Linked DNA regions of Homo sapiens: region 2 is linked to region 1. A link means that fine-mapping ties the variant in region 1 to the expression of a gene that starts in the linked region. Tissue or cell type: whole blood. Region 1 holds a variant in brackets; the other region holds the start of a gene. All regions are shown on one strand. Distances are from middle to middle.

The links. PIP is the estimated chance that this variant, and not a neighbour inherited with it, causes the effect.
Region 2: SLC9A7 starts here. The variant in region 1 is fine-mapped to the expression of SLC9A7 in whole blood (TOPMed, PIP 0.91).

Annotation. Positions count from the first base shown.
Region 1 is chrX:46,595,083-46,603,329 of GRCh38, reverse strand. It overlaps CHST7 (carbohydrate sulfotransferase 7), which reads right to left. Exons shown (of 2, transcript NM_019886.4): 2 at 4,834-5,570. SLC9A7 (solute carrier family 9 member A7) reads left to right here. Exons shown (of 17, transcript NM_001257291.2): 17 at 1-4,079. Among named protein-coding and RNA genes, the nearest start is that of CHST7, 25 kb to the right of the region's middle. The variant C/A (reference allele first, on the strand shown) is at 4,142.
Region 2 is chrX:46,754,788-46,763,034 of GRCh38, reverse strand. It overlaps SLC9A7 (solute carrier family 9 member A7), which reads left to right and starts at 3,917. Exons shown (of 17, transcript NM_001257291.2): 1 at 3,917-4,330. The coding sequence starts at 4,006. RefSeq lists silencers at 3,636-3,985, 4,006-4,145.

The DNA.
Region 1 (8,247 bases):
CATCAGGGTTTTCCTGTGTGGAGATGACAGGGGAAACAGGGAGGAAATCCTAATTATGGCTTGTCCTCTTCCCTGAATTGCTGTCTACGACAGTGTAGTTCCAATGTAAACAAGGTGGGTTGGGGATGGTTTGTATAGGGCAGGAGGCCCACCCAGAAGTCCTACCCAGGGAAGAGAGGGCCCAGAATCTAGTTGCAGCATTTGCCCAGTAACCCTACCCCGGCCTTTCTTTGTGTGTTAGGAAGCTGGAAATGCAGGCTGGTCTCCCTTTCTTGCCTTTGTCACTAACCCCGAGCTGTCAGCCATTTGGAATCAGAACTGCTTTCCAGTGTTCTAAGTCCTTATTTGATTACAAATATTTGGTGAATCAAAGTAAGGCACTTTGGTCCTAATTTTTGACCTTTGGTCCTAATTTTTGTTTGTAAGATGTGGAGAATAACCCTGACCTTACCAGGGGTCCTGGGAATGTGAATCCATTCGTCAAGTGGTTCCACATCTAGAAGAATTTTGCCTATGCCATGTCAGGCATCATTCAACACAAGGCCAACTATCTGCTGCCAGTCTGGCATAAGATCAGATTGAAACTGCTAAGTAATGGTACATCCAAATAAACAAAGTTCTTCCAAGAGAGTAAACCCAAGTCCATCTTATACACGTATTTGTTCTGGGTTGGTGGGGACGACAGTTCAGCCGAGTCCGATGTTCTAGAGCAGAGGTTCTCAACCCTGGCTGTGAATTAGGATCATCTGGCCAGTTTTTGTTTTTAAATCAGTGCAAGGGCCCTCCCCTCAGAGATTCAGATTCAGTAGCTTCAGGTGGGACCTGGAATCCATGCTTTGTTTGGAACCTCAGGAGTGTTCTTGATGTGCAGCCAGGATTGACAAGAGCCTTTAGTCTAGAGCTCGCAGCAGACCTCTAGACTATTTGGAATCTGATTTTAAAGAATGGCCCAGCAGATGAAGGTGTTTTTTTAAATTGTTAGTCATGTGAAACGAACTGAGTATTGATCAGTAATACAGACAGGGCAGCTGTGAGAGAGTTTGATGCTAATCTTTGCAGAACTCAAGAACATACTCCATAAAGTACAGCTGAAAAGATCACGAAAACCTTGGAGCCTTCGAGGAAAGAGAAGGGTGACTTGGGGTATGTATGGGGAGAACTAAAAACCTGTCATCTTGGTTCCCACTTGTGGGGAATAAAGGGAAGGTATTGTCTTAACTGAGCTGCTAACTAATCAAGCATGAAGGTTTCTGGGAAGCTGTTTTGTTTTTTTTTTTTAATTTCACCTGGAATTAAATTAATAGTCCCCTCTGGAGTCAGATTTTCTTTTCCTTCACCTATCCTCATGCCTGAGTCCACACTGGATTCCTCAGAATAAGGGTGGGCCCATTTACTGCTGGAGCAAAGTAGAAGGTTGTGGTCCTTTGCTATCACATGGTGATGGTGGTGGTTTCCGTAGCAGGTAATTAAGGAGATGCACACTTTTGTATAGCCCTGACAGAGAGAAGATGAAAGCTGCTATTCCTTTTAGTACACTTTTTGAGAACTACCAGAAACCTGAACTTTCTCTCCTAGGGAAGAAAATTTGGAATTTAAATAAGGCCACATTTCTTCCTAGGACACAATCACAGGAAGGGCATATGGATCCGAGCATCCAGGGTGGTTACTGGGGTGATCAGACAAATAAGCATTGATGCCTGGAAGGCAGAAATCACACTGCGACATCAAATGTTTCATCAAGCAAACAGCAAGGATCTCTTCAGGCTGTGTTCTCTAGACCCGAAAATGTCCTCTGTGGTTTGGCTGACAAATGGAATCTCTTTAGAAAACATGCAAAAGGGTATCTCAGCTATCCATGAACGATTCGGTCTAGGACAAAGAACTAACAGTTCCTTCCAAAATAGAGGTCTGTTGGTCTGTTTGACGTCATCCCATCATCCTATCTCTCCCTGTCCTTGTCTGCAGTAGAAGTTAATGTAATCATACCAGATGTTTAATGTGAACAAGTAATTTCCAAATGTAGAAACACCACTGATGCACTTAGGGGGAAAAACAGTGGCAGGGTGTTAGAGCATCTCATCAGAGGTGAAAATCACCCACTTGGAAACCTACTGTGCACCCGTTGTGAGTTCTAAGAGTGTATCAGAAAGCTGATTTTACCATCTGTTGTGAAAGATTATCTGCAATGAGGGCTGCTAGAAAGTCAGCCTGCTGATCTCACAAGTATATGACTTCTTATTCCACTTCAAAAGTGGGGAACTTGACAAGTTTCTTGTCTGCCTTTTGATGTTGATTCTATAGATTAATTAGTTCAGGAACAAGTCTTTCATATACATTAGACTGGTATCATTGAGTTCTGAGCTATTCTGTTGTTCTTTAACTGACACTCTGGATTGCCAGTGTCGGCTGCTACATTCTGATACAGTAAGTCAAAGGAATCTAGTGGCCAAGAGTTGTAGTTTAGAAACAACCCATCTGAATACTGCTTTTACCACTTTGATACCTGAAAAGATCATCCCCCTTTCTAAAACCTGAAAACAACATATAGAGAAATACTGTAGAAACCATTGCTAGTGTCTTAACTAGGAAAAGCAAGTAGACTCATCAACAATCCTTTCAAAACAAGACCTAGAGATAAACAGTTTTTTCCAGTGTCAATTTTCATAGACATTTTTAAAAAATTAAACACATCTTGTCACCCAGTGCTAGCAAAAATTGTAAAGAGCAAAACCAAAGTTTTTGATGTTAGTCTTATTTTTGTAAGCAGGGTATACTATAGTCGTGGCCCATATGGAACACACAGGCAGCCGGTTTTCTGCTACCTGAGCCTTGGAGAAGATGAGAAGGAAGGGCTGCCTGCTGTGCTGCCCTTTGAAAAGGTCCAAAGCAGACAGGAGCGCACACAGCAGAAGTCACCTTCTCCTTCTGATGACCACCTTTCAAAAGGCTTAACAGAATCACCAAGTGTCACAGTCAGCTCTTGGCCAGTGGAAAATTGTCTGGGCCTGTATATGTTGGAGGAACTCAGATAGAAAAGGACTTGTAAACAGCATGGAAACCTCAACATCTGCTGTCTCAAGCACTTAAAAAAGGCTACAATTCAGGTGTTACTGGATGACTTAACTGCATGGACATTTAGGGGCTGACTTGTGTTGTGATTATTCCAATTGTGGGCTTTGGAGAAGCAGAGGGATGATTTTCAGTTGTGTGGGTGTTAAGTCTATGGATTGGGAATTTACCACTGAAATTGATCGTTCAAAGTGTGACTTCATAGTAGGGCCAGCTCCTCCTAAGTTGTCCTTTTGTTTTTCACATAAAATACATCTGGTACTTTTTACTTGGAAAGTTGTACTATGTCCATGAAAATGGTTAAATGAGAAGGCCATAAAGATTCATTTAATAGCTGAAAAGCAACTTTTAAAATAGAATAGGACGAATTTAACATGGAATGATGTGACCTTCTAGGGAACTTTTTATAGAGAGCTTACATAGTGTAATTGGGGAGAATTTTGTCTTCTATTTCCATTCAACAGTAGCAAACTGGTGGTTTTATAAAATTAACATTATAGTATGTTATATAAATAAACGTTATATAAAATGACATTAAAGTATAACTGTGAAAAATTAAAGACTTGGCGTTATCCACAACCTTTATGTGCAATAAGGAAAACTGCAGTAGGCCCCCAAAGTGCCGTCTTTCCCTAGCATTTTACTCAATGTTTGCCTTTGTGTATGTTTAGATTGCTATTGTAAAGCTAGCCATGTGTGTTCCTGCCCTTTACTGATATTTAACACATTTTCTCAAAGCTTTTCTTTTTTTAAAAAAACAAAACTCAAAATAAAACAACTAACTGGCTGAGCTAATTTTGTTTTGTATTTTAAAGTAAAGTATCATCTGTTGGTAGAAGGCTGTAGTGTGATACTATTCTTAGTCTGTTTCCCTCACTGAGAGGTTCTTTTCTGGGTGTAAGCTATTCCTCTCCAGCTTTCTTTAGGCCTGGGGTTGGCAAACTACAGCTGGCTCCTGAACCAAGTCCAGCCCACTGCCTTTTTTTGTAAATAAAGTTTTATTGGCATGACTAGGCTCATTCATTTGCTTACTGTCTGTGGCTGCTTTCCTGCTACAATGACAAAGCTGAGG[C/A]GTTGCAACAGAGATCATATGGCCCATAAAAAGTAAACAGCTATTTACTATCTGGGCCTTAACAGAAAAAGTTTCTGCCAGCCTCTGATTTAGATGCTTGAAGAAATTCAGTTTTAAAATAGGGCTGGGCACAGTGGCTCACACCTGTAATCCCAGCATTTTGGGAGGCCAAGGCCAAGGTGGGTGGATCACCTGAGGTCAAGAGTTCAGGACCAGCCAGGCCAACATGGTGAAACCCCGTCTCTACTAAAAATACAAAAATTAGCCAGGCATGGTGGCATGCACCTGTAGTCGCAGCTACTCAGGAGGCTGAGGCAGGAGAATCACTTGAACCCAGGAAGTGGAAGTTGTTGCAGTGAGCCAAGATCGTGCCACTGCACTCCAGCCTGGGTGACAGAGCGAGACTCTGTCTCAAAAAACACAAGATGTAAAAATCACAGCAACAGATTTTTGAGACTTTCTAAAATGTGCATTAGGGTTAAAAGATGATAGATATACTTTAGCCTCTGCCTGTGACTCCTCCTTGCCTGTAACCATCTTTAACAGGCTTTGAATGTAGAACCCTGAAAAAGGCATCACCAACTGTTGGCAACATCAGCTAGTAAGACTGAAGCAAGTGGATTTGACATTGCAGCTTAATGCTTAAGTTCTTCTTTTACCGGATAATTGCTGAAATTCTTAAACCCAATATACAGTTTCTTCCACAGTCTTCATATTCCTTTGTATGTAGGCTAGCTTTTACCCAAACCATGCAATTGAACTGCATCCAAACAAAACAAATCCTGTCATTAACATGACTCCAGAGTCATTTAATAGTATGATTACAAAAACGCCAGACAGAAAAATTTTAAAGTAAAAGTGTGTTTCAGTTCATTAGGGTTTTCCCAGCCCAGGGAGAAAAATTACTTCTTTTTAAAAATCAGTTCTGGGTAGAGGGAGACGGAGCTATTTGAAGGACAGCTGGATGAGTCAGGTTAAAAACAATACTGCCCAGACCTATTATTATTTAATAATATTATTAAGTAATTTAATCAAGACAGGACTGCACTTGGCCCTTATTCACATTGATGTTTTCGTCCAGACACCTGCTGGTGTGAAATGGTACCAAATCACATCTCTTCTTTGTTGTGAGGATGCCTTGTTGAAATGGCTCCAGCAGTGGCAGGTTCAGCCTGGGAACTAAAGCTCTTCCTATTTTACAGCCATAAATATCCACATTGCACTGTCACTTCCTTACTGGAAACTTCATCTCAACCAATGCGTCCGTCATTATTGAACAGCTCATGATATTCCTGCTCAGCAGAATTGCACAGCAGTTGTTGGTAGCAAGTCAAGTCCCAGACTCTGAGAGTGTGACAGATTGCCCCCACAGCGCTGCTTCTCCAGTGCTGGGGCAGCATGCCGAGTGCCCCTGTTCGTGGTGACTGACCTAGAAGGGAAGGAACAAAGGACGTCTGAACTTCAGAACACAGAAATCCCCAGAAAGAAAGTCTGTTGGACCCTGATGACATAAGGCCTTTTAAATCAGAAACCTATAATCTTCCAAACCCATACCGAATCAGTATCAACCATTTCTGGCTTGTGAAGACAGACCAGGAGAAAATGACCCAAGAGGTGTTGGGTGAGGGTGAAGATGGGAAAACTCCGGGGGCGCCTCTGTTAGCATGGCTGCGCTTTCTGCAGCTGCTGTTGTGGAGCGCCTGCTGAGGAGAACAGGGCTTTCTGGGACCTTCTGGGTAGTGTGTAGGAGGAACTGGGATTGAAACCGTACCTTTAGGCACCAACCACGTACCCATCCATTCTTCACTTATGTACCAGTTCATATGTGCAAAACGCCAACAGCAACTGACGATTCTATAAAACTGAGGCTGTAGATAGGCAGTGAGTCCAGCTTTCTATCTTTGTGGCACCTGAACTTTTTTCTTCTTTCATTTAAACACATTGCTTGTGTCACTCTATGTGAGCAGTGGAAAGTGGGCTGACTCTAGTGTGTCTGAACTAGTCCTGTCACCAGTTTCTTGCTCTCCTGTGATCCTTCCTCTGATCCTGGATGTGTACCAAATTTGACATTTTCTAATGGAGTGAAACTGTCCATCAGCTTAATAGAACCACTGATGCAAAGTTTGGGAAAGGCAGTTTCAAGATGATTTAAAATGTGCAATAAAGATTCACACTAAGCATTAAGGAAAAGCTAATTTCAGAAATGCTTTGAGGCCTTTCTATAATTTTTTTTTTTTTTTTTGAGACAGAGTCTCACTCTGTTGCCCAGGCTGGAGTACAGTGGCATGATCTAAGCTCACTGCAGCCTCCACCTCCTGAGTTCCAGCAATTCTCCTGCCTCAGCCTCCTGAGTAGCTGTGACTACAGGTGTGCAGCACCACACCTGGCTAATTTTTTGTATTTTTAGTAGAGACGGGGTTTCACCGTGTTGGCCAGGCTGGTCTCGAACTCCTGACCTCAAGTGATCCACCCATCTTGGCCTCCCAAAGTGCTAGGATTACTGGCATGAGCCACTGTGCCCAACCCCTTTCTATAAATCTTTAGTATTTTGCTAGTACACATGTTTCATGAAAGGGCTATATAAGCAAAGTGACCCCCAAATGCAGAAGGGGCTGAGAAACCAAAGAAGGAGGCAGATAAGTCCAGCTTGTCATCACAGGGTGATTTTATCGGGGAACTTATGGACAGAAGTATGGTCTTGAGCAGCTGCAAGGCAGATAGATCTCCACACCATTACCCCCCACCCCCAGACCCAGGGATTATAAACCACAGGAAAAGGTACACGTGTTTCAGAGGGAATGAGTAGGAGTTTGATCTAAGGGCAGGATTTATGGTAAGGATGTGCTCTTAACACAAGGAACAATAGATGAACTGGAAATCTCAGAGGCATTCCTGGAACCAGGGTTAATCACAAGTCAACATAGTGGATTAGCATCCAAGATGGAGTTACTTTAGCCTCCACAACAGGTTACTTACATAAAGAGCCACCATGTCAAATTTCAGTCTTTAATAAAAACCAATTTCCAGGTGGGCCGACTTTTTTTTTTTTTTTTGACAGAGTCTAGCTCTGTCACCCAGGCTGGAGTGCAGTGCAATGATCTCGGCTCACTGCAATCTCTGCCTCCTGGGTTCAAGCGATTCTCGTGCCTCAGCCTCCCGAGTAGCTGGGATTACAGGCGTGCACCACCACGCCCAGCTAATTTGTGTATTTTTAGTAGAGACAGGGTTTCACCATGTTGGCCAGGCTGGTATCGAACTCCTCACCCCAGGTGATCAGCCCGCCTCAGCCTCCCAAAGTGCTAGGATTACAGATGTGAGCCACCGCGCCCAGCCAGATGGGCTGACTTCTAGTTGACAAGATGGAATAGATGCACTTCTTATTCCTCCCACAAAGTATAACTAAAAACTCCGAATATTATGTATAAAACAAAGATAAGAGTCTGAAGGGTGGAGAGAAGAAGGCCAACTGACTAGGAACCTTGGCAACTGAGGAATACTATGACCCTGAGTTTTCTTTTTGCTGCCTCTATATCCTGAATGTTGTGTGCTAAAGAAGCCAGCAAGCCAGAAATGCCAACTGTGACAGACACACACAAAAAAGCCCTGAAAAAAGCCTGTTACCTCTAGCCAAAGGACAGGAAAGGTTCACTCTAAAAAAGACAGAAACCAAGCACCACAATTAAAAAAAAAAATCCCCTCTCCTGTGAGCAAAGCCCTAGTGGGAAGCCAGGATCTCTGGACTGCCACCTTGACCTGGCAGTAACCAGGTGATGTGCCCCTTTCTCCACCAGTGTGGTGTCAGTGGAGGCCTGCTAAAAAAGAAGATTTAAATAAGATTTGGAGATTCATAAGATAATTCTTCCAGTGTCCAGGACAATAAAAAGAGCACTTGTCAAACCAAGAACCAGGGAAATTTCAGCTTGAATGAGAAAAGACAACTGATACATACCAACACTGAGATGACACAGATGTTGAAATTATCTGAAACAGATTTTAAGTGGCAATCATAAACATCCTCAATTAGCCATTACAAACACACTTGAAGCAAATAAAAAAATTGAAATTCTCAGCGAATAATTTTTTAAAAAGCAACCAAATAGAAATTT
Region 2 (8,247 bases), 160 kb before region 1:
CCACCCAAGTTAAGATTTTCATGGTTCTTCAGGTATTGAATAATTTTGGGTTGTATCCTGGACATTTTGAATATTATGTTATAGGACTTTGTATCTTGTTTTAATACTATGGGGAAATATTCATATTTTTGTTTTAGTTTGTAATAGACATGCTTGGGTTTAGATCACAAGTTCTGACATGCCTTTTGTGGATAGTGGCTCCAAAGTCAATTCAGTTTTCAAAAGTTTGTAATGCTATTCAGATCTGTCCTACATGTGTTTTATCCAGTGGCTAGTCTAGGGCTTGGGTGGTGGTCTGCCTCTTAGTTCAGTTATCACAGTCTTTGGTATGCTGTTTAGGATCAGATCCATGTGCAGGTTGGGGTGAACCTAGGAGTTCATAAAAACTTTATGAGGACCTTTCCCAAGGTCCTCTCCTCTCTACTGTCTCCTTGGTACTTTGTAATGCCTTGGAGTTCCCCTTTTAATCAATTGGCAAGAAATCTAGACTATTTAATTTATTTAAAGACAGGGTCTCGCTCTGTCGCCCAGGCTGGAGTACAGTGGTGTGATCATAGCTCACTGTAGCCTCGAACTCCTGAGCTCAAGTGAGCCTCCCACCTTAGCCTCTTGAGTAGCCAAGACTACAGGCAAGCACTACAGTGCCCAGCTAATTTTATTTTTAAATGTTTCATAGAGACAGGGTCTTGCTACATTGCCCAGGCTGTTCTCCAACTCCTGGCCTCAACAAATCCACTCACCTCAGCCTCCCAAAATGTTGGGATTACAGGGGTGAGCCACTGTGCCTGTCCAGAAATCTGGGTCTTTATTTAATCCTCTCTGTTATGTATTTCCTGAAACTTTGCCCATGTCTTGGGCCAAGCATCAGGACAGAGAGAGTGAAAAAATATATATCATTGAGGTTTTGGCCCCACTGTCTTGGGACCAGAGCTACTTCAAACAGAGAGGAAGGTTCTCCCCTCCCTTAGCATTTTTTGGGTGCTTGAAGGTATTGCTGTCTCCATTGTCACTGTTGACTGAGGTGCCACAGTGGGATTGCTTATTGGCTAAAATGTAAGAGAATGGAGAAAAGAAAAAAAATGGCACATTTCTCCTACTTTCTCTGAATATTAGGAGACCAATTTTCTGCTTTTCCTGGAGCTCTCTCTGTCCATGTTGATGCTCCCTTCCGGGTGTTAAGCTGCCTTGAGTCCAGTCTAGTGGAGACTGGAGGAAAAAAATGGTAAACTCACCGCCAGTTCAGTTTTACTTCAAATTCTGTTGTTTTTCCTCAGTTTATGTGGTACAATTTACTTTCCAGAGTCCTCAAATAGTTGCTGCATGCATTCTGTTCACATTTTATAGCTGTATTCAGTAGCAGGTAATGGGTTTAGTGTGATTATTCTGTGTTAACTGAAATCAGAACTCCTGTATTATATAGGTTAGTTTTCACACATAAATATGTAGAGATAATGGAGTGTTTTCTTTGGTGTGTATTTGTGAATGGTTGGGACTAGTCTTTTCATACTCTACCCAAGGGAACTACTTTACATAATAAATACTCTTCTGGTTATCTATTGCTGTGGAAGAAACCACCCTCAAACTTAGTAGCTTAAAATAACACCAATCATTTTATTATGCTACAGTTGCAGATGTTGGTTAGGTTCAGCGACATGGTTCTTGCTTGGGGCCTCTCATATGTCTACAGTAAGATGGTGGCTGGGAATGAATTGATTTGAAGACTCATTCATTCACATGTGTGGCATTTGGGCTGGGAACACTCAAAAAGTTGGGTCTCCTGTGGCATCTACCTCTATTGCTACATGGTCTCTCTACATGGTTTCTTCAGTATGTCAGCTTCCAGGTAGCTAGATTTCTTTGTCTGTTTGTTTGTTTTTTTGTTTTTGGAGGCAGGGTCTCACTCTGTCACTCAGGCTGGAGTGCAGTGGTGCAATCTTGGCTCACTGCAACCTCTGCCTCCCAGGTTCAAGTGATTCTCGTGCCACCACCTCCCAAGTAGCTGGGATTACAGGCACACACCACCACACCCGGCTAATTTTTGTATTTTTAGTGGAGACAGGGTTTTGCCATGTTGGTCAGGCTGGTCTTGAACTCCTGACCTCAGGTGATCCGCCCGCCTTGGCCTCCCAAAGTGCTGGGATTACAGGCGTGAGCCACCGTGCCCAGCCTAGCTAGAGTGGAAAGTGACAGAATGAAACAGGCAGGAGCTAGATTACCTTTTATGACCTAGCCTCACAAATCACATAATCTCCATTACCACATTATATTCTTTGAGGGAGTCACAAAGGTCCACTGAGGTTCAAGGGGAGGGAACATAGATGCCCCTTCTTGATGGGGGATGGTAAGGTTCTGGGATTGGAAATATGATTGTGGCCATCTTTTTAAAAAATACAATCCGCCACAAATACTAAGAAGTCTGTACTTTTAAGGTAGCTCCTGAGTTGCCCTTTTCTAAAGAGAGAAATTCTGTCCTTGAGTACTGGGCACCCAAAGGGGCATAATATTATGACCAACACAGTGCCCATCCAGGTTTTAAGTATTTGCAATTTTATTGGAAACCTGTGTGGAACTTCAAGGTATACGGATGTTTGCAGGGGCTGAGTGACTGCCTAGAGGAGTTGGGAAAGGGGCTAGCTAAAATGTAGATGAAGAGATTTCCCTGCTTTAAAGAAACCACTAAACAGCTTTGGCAGAGTGCTCACCTACAGGGGAACCAGGAAGGCTGCAGTACTCCAAAGAGTTTTCTTACCTAATGCTACCTCTACCCTATTATTTCATTTGGTTAAGCATCACCTTCTTCAATGAATCCTCTTAAAAATGCAAACTCCCCTGGGAGCGAAAACATGGGCAGTTTTGGTAGAGATTTCAGAGTGGTTCAATAAACACATGAGTACAGTGCTAAGCACTGGGAACTCAGTGATTAATCTGATCTTGTTTCTTCCTTGACCAGAGGAGCAAGGTGGATTGAAGATTCTAGTTTTCCTGAGAATTTGTTCCAAGAGGCTTCATCCTTCAGAGTCCACGCCATAATTTTGTTCAGAGCTGGGTTTGGTCTTAAGAGTCATTAAAAGACTCTCTGAGCTACCAGGTGAGCAACATAAAAGAAAGGGTCATCAGGGTAACCCCCACCCCCCACCACCACCTTAGGACCAGCTACTGCTCATCTACCAGGAATGGCAAGCGTTCAGTTCCTTCTGGTTCAACCCTATTCCCCAAGGGGATTAGTAGCACAGCGCAGACGAAGTCTATTCCCTCAAGTGAGGAAGGAGATACTTCAATGCCCTCCCCCGATTCCAACTCCTTATCAGTCCTCACATTTGAGTCTGATGAGAACAGAGGTTTGAATGAAACCTAGCAGATTCTGGGGCTGGAAGGGCAACCTGAGAGATGAGGAAAGAGAGGTGTAGGGGCTAACGTGGCTTCGGGGCTGCTCGGTTCACTGACAGCCCCCACTTTACTGGGCCCAGGGCGGCTGCACACTGGCCTGAGATTAAACACTTCGCCGTGGCGCCAGAGACGGGACTCGAGACCGCAAGGCTAGTCACTCCAAGCCGATGCTCCCGCTAGGCGCCGGCGACCTCTGGCGTCCCCTTTCGGAAGTGCGGCGGCGGCTGCCCATGAACTGGCCCCACGACCCCAGACTGCCTGGGCAGGTGCGCCAGGACGGGGTGAGAAGCGCAGAGAGGCAAGCAGCCGGCGGCCGGCCCGCAGACCCGAGGGCAACACCCGGCCCCGCCTGGGTGGCTCGGTTGGCCCGCGGGGCGGTGCGGCGTGGCGCGGCCGGGGGACGAACAGGTGCGCGGGCGGGGGGCGGTGCTTGGGGATCCTGCGCACTGCGCGCGCCCCTCCCCCGCGCGGCCCCGGGCGCAGCCCCGGCCCGGCGCGAGTAGGAGGAGGAGCTGCAGCGGCCACGGCCACTCCGGCAGGTCCGCGGTGCTGCCAGAACCCGCCGACGGCGCGGGCTGCTGGTCCCCGCTCGGAGGAGGCGCGGGGGGCCCCGGGACCATGGAGCCTGGTGACGCGGCGCGCCCTGGCTCGGGTCGGGCTACCGGGGCGCCGCCGCCGCGGCTGCTGCTGCTGCCGCTGCTGCTGGGTTGGGGGCTGCGAGTCGCGGCCGCGGCCTCGGCCTCCTCCTCTGGGGCGGCGGCGGAGGACAGCAGCGCCATGGAGGAGCTCGCTACTGAGAAGGAGGCGGAGGAGAGCCACCGGCAAGACAGCGTGAGCCTGCTCACCTTCATCCTGCTGCTCACGCTCACCATCCTCACCATCTGGCTCTTCAAGCACCGCCGGGTGCGCTTTCTGCACGAGACCGGGCTGGCCATGATCTATGGTGAGCACCCCTGTTACACCCCCCGCCCTCCACACCCCTCGGCCGCCGCGCTCCTCCTGGCGCCGCGCGGTGCTCCCCCTTCACTTGCCAACGTGTTCCGTTTCTTTTACGTTTCCCGCTGCGACGGTGTTGGTTCCCAAGGTCAACTGTCTGCATTTTCTGGCTCTCTGCTACCGTTAAAAACAATTCCACCCCTATTCCACGTTTCTGCATTGGGAACCCAGGAAAATGAAAGGGACAGAGGTGGTCCGGTTCCGTCTGCCCCGTTCGGTCTCTGTTGCAAACCTCTTACCCACCACCTCCCGCTCCAGTTGAGCTCGATAGGGTGTGTGTGCCTGCGTGGTGGCTGGAGGTGGGTGGCTTCCCAGGTGACTGCATCACCTCAGGGGACAGGCCACAGTAGGGAGTGGGGACGAAGTCTGAAAGTGTCTTTGCTTGGGTATGGGTTAGTGGGGCCTCTTGGACGCCACATCCATGGTCAGCCTGGGTGGGTACCCACTCCTGAGGTCCACATTCCCAGGTCTCTTAATGATAAAGTCAGAGCATGAAGTGTGGTGAAAGGTGAGCAGTGGTCCAGGACCCAGAGTGGGTGGCACCACCATGTCAGGCCTGGACGAGGAGACAGGCACGCCTCCTGCTCTTATGTCCCGAGTGGAAAGTTATACCCAGTTACTTGCTTTCTCAAACGAAGAGGAGCTTTTGTATTCCTAAGACGGTAACAGGGAGTGAGTTTGAGATACATTTCCGAATGTATGAAGGGGAAAAGTCGTGGTTTTAATTCCGGAGTCAGCCATCTTTTGTTGTTAGGGGTGGGCTGATGCTACCATCCTTTTCTAGATTTAATGGTACACAGTGTGTTACATGCACAGTGGTCAGTACAAATCTCCCTTTATTACATGGATGTCAGCCATAATCTGAGTCATCCCTCTTCCTCTTCTGTGCCCCCTGCCTCCCCCCTCGCCCTGCCCATGACTCCAAAGTGGAGTCAGGTATTCTCTTTTTGAATGTAATTCAGTGGTGTTAAAGCCCCTGAATTGGCATCCTCACACGAAATAGACGAGCCACTTCATGATTGTTCCCAACGGGGAAAATTTTATTTTATCACATATACTGAGGGATTTCTTTATTCAGTTTCCATCCAGGTGCCCTGATAGAGAATGGAAAGCAGAAACCTTAACCTTTAATGTGAAAATTACCCTTGGTTCTGGGCCTTGCTTCTCATGTTTCTTGATTAGTTGTTGACAGCCGGGGCTCATGGCCACCAGGCCCTCGCAGCCAAACCGTGTAAGGGGCAAGCGCTGTTAAGAGCCCTCCAGTTTTGATGAAGTAGTGACCTACACAGATCTTGAAACAGGACCAGGTCTAAAACCGAGTTTGGTGATTGCGAATTATAGGTCTCAACACAGACTTTGGCCTCCATCCCTGACCGTTGTTGAGCTCTGTGGTTTGTGTCAGTTGGTGATAAATGACTGATGCCAGGCCTGCAGGTAAGCTGGGAGGTTTCCTGAGAAGACAGACAGGGGGGAATTGAAGCACGTGGTCATTGCAGGTGATTGACTCCAAGCCATGATGCAAATGAAAATTGCCTTTATATAGATAACCGTGAAAATATTTTTATTTAATAGGCCCTAGACCCAGTTTCTTAAAGGACAATGTGAAATAGGAGGTAGATTTGTCAGATTCGTAAACACATGCTCAAGGGATGGAAAATAAATGGGGATTTGAAAATATATTTTCTGGAGAGTACTCCGTGTTCTGAGGAGTTCAATCACCTTTATCTTAAGGCTTAAAGACAACAGTGGAATTTTCCTTTGCTGATACGTACTTTTAAAACTCACCTCCATCTTTCAGCCATTTGGTTGTGCTACAGTGTACTGTTTTATTTTGTGAACAATCAAGTTACAAATCTAGTGTAACTGATGGCTGTTCAGAAAAGGCAATATCATCTCAGCATTCCTGTGTAATTTTGTTCTATATCTTTGAGTATTAGTGTTTCTTTAAATGTATAAAGAAATTTAGTTTGTCAATATGTGATGTCTCAGGTTATGCCAAATATTAATATTTTAAGGACTGTCTGTAATTGTGAGAAAACATTTCTTCTTTCTCTCAGGTATGTTTGGTCTTCTACTGCAAGGTCCCCCTAATCTGAATTCTAATGTCATGTGATTAGCTAATTATTCATAGTATACTGAAGACTATTGGGATGGGGATTTTAAACTGATCTTAAAATTCAGTTTGCAAATCTTTTAAAAAATTGTCTGCATTTAAGATGTACAACATGATGTTTTGATAAACACAATGAAATGATTACTACTGTCAAGCAAATCTTTGAACACAAGTAAATCCAGTAAAGATTTTTCAAGACTTCTCTTTTTTAATAGTAAAAAATAAAATTTGATTTCTCTATATCAATAGAGGAAGTGAGTAATTGTCCTCTTGGCTCTGAATAAGGAACGACAAAAAGACCTAAGGAAACATTTTTAAAGTATCCACTGTGTGCTGGGAACCCAACTTAATTTCTGGAGGCAAACAATTTAACTTTTAAATGTTTATGAATGAAAGAGTTCAACTGTGAATTTCAAAACTCTTTATTTTGAGAAAAAGTTTTAAAATGTAATTTCTGCCACCTTTTTGTGTTTAAGTGACACTTTAATCTGAGAAGAACAGCGTTTACATTTAAGATAAATTTATATATATATAAATTTATATATTTGTTGGTATAGTCGTAAAATATCTCTGGAAGGACATGCAATAGATGAGTAACATTGGTTTCCTTGGGGGAGAGGAACTAGATGGCTGTGAAATAGGAGTGGGAGGGAGAGGTCACCATATAACCTTGTATGCTTCTTGGTCTTGTAATAGCTTTTTTTTTTTTTTTTTTCCAAGACGGAGTCTCACTCTGTCGCCCAGGCTTGAATGCAGTAGCGCAATCTCGGCTCACTGCAAACTCCACCTCCCGGATTCAAGCAATTCTTCATCTCAGCCTCCTGAGTAGCTGGGATTACAGGCGCCCGCCACCATGCCCGGCTAAATTTTGTATTTTTAGTAGAGATTGGGTTTCACCATCTTGGCCAGGCTGGTCTTGAACTCCTGACCTCCACCCACCTCAGCCTCCCAAAGTGCTGGGATTACAGGTGTGAGCCACCGCACCCGGCTGTAATAGCATTTTAACGTGCTCCTCAAATCACTCAATTTGACGCCTACTTCTCCCTATTTAAATCACATTATGTTATCAATTTTCTTCATGACTTTTCAATTCTTAATTGTGCCCTTGGAGCTTTTCTGAGCCCTGTGTCTGGGATGGAGATAAAATGGGGAAAGGGGAAGAGATTTCTCTCTCTCTCTCCCTCCCTCCCTCCCTCTCTCACCCTCTCTTTCCCACTCGCTCTCTCCCTCTTTTTCCTTCCCTTTATTCCATTATCCTCAGAGAGTAGTCAATGTTACATTAGCAGTGATGTGCACAAATAGACCCCATAATAAGTGCTTGCTTGGATGCAGAGGACCTAAGGAAAATAAAAGACACACTGTGAATGCTTAACGTTTAAACAGAAAGGAACTCCCCCACCCACCAAAGGACACTTATAAGCATTCCTCCCTGACAGGCCAGGGCAGCTACAAGGGAAGGTAGCTACAGACCTAACTCCCCAGGAAGGTTGAAAGCAGCCCCCAGACCCCACCACTGGAGCTGCAAGGCAGCGGGGCCAGGCACTTGCCTGCCACCAGTCTAACCTGTTTTGTCAGGCCAGGGAGCTCCCAGCTGTCTGTCTCTGTTATGTGATTAAGTGCCATCCTAAAGTTACTGGGCCCTACATGTCTTTGCAGCAGAAATAGAAAGTGTTTAGGGCAGGGAAAGTTGGTATAAACAGACTGTGCCAGTTCATTGTGGTTCTCTCTCAGATGTACGGTAGTTCCACTTC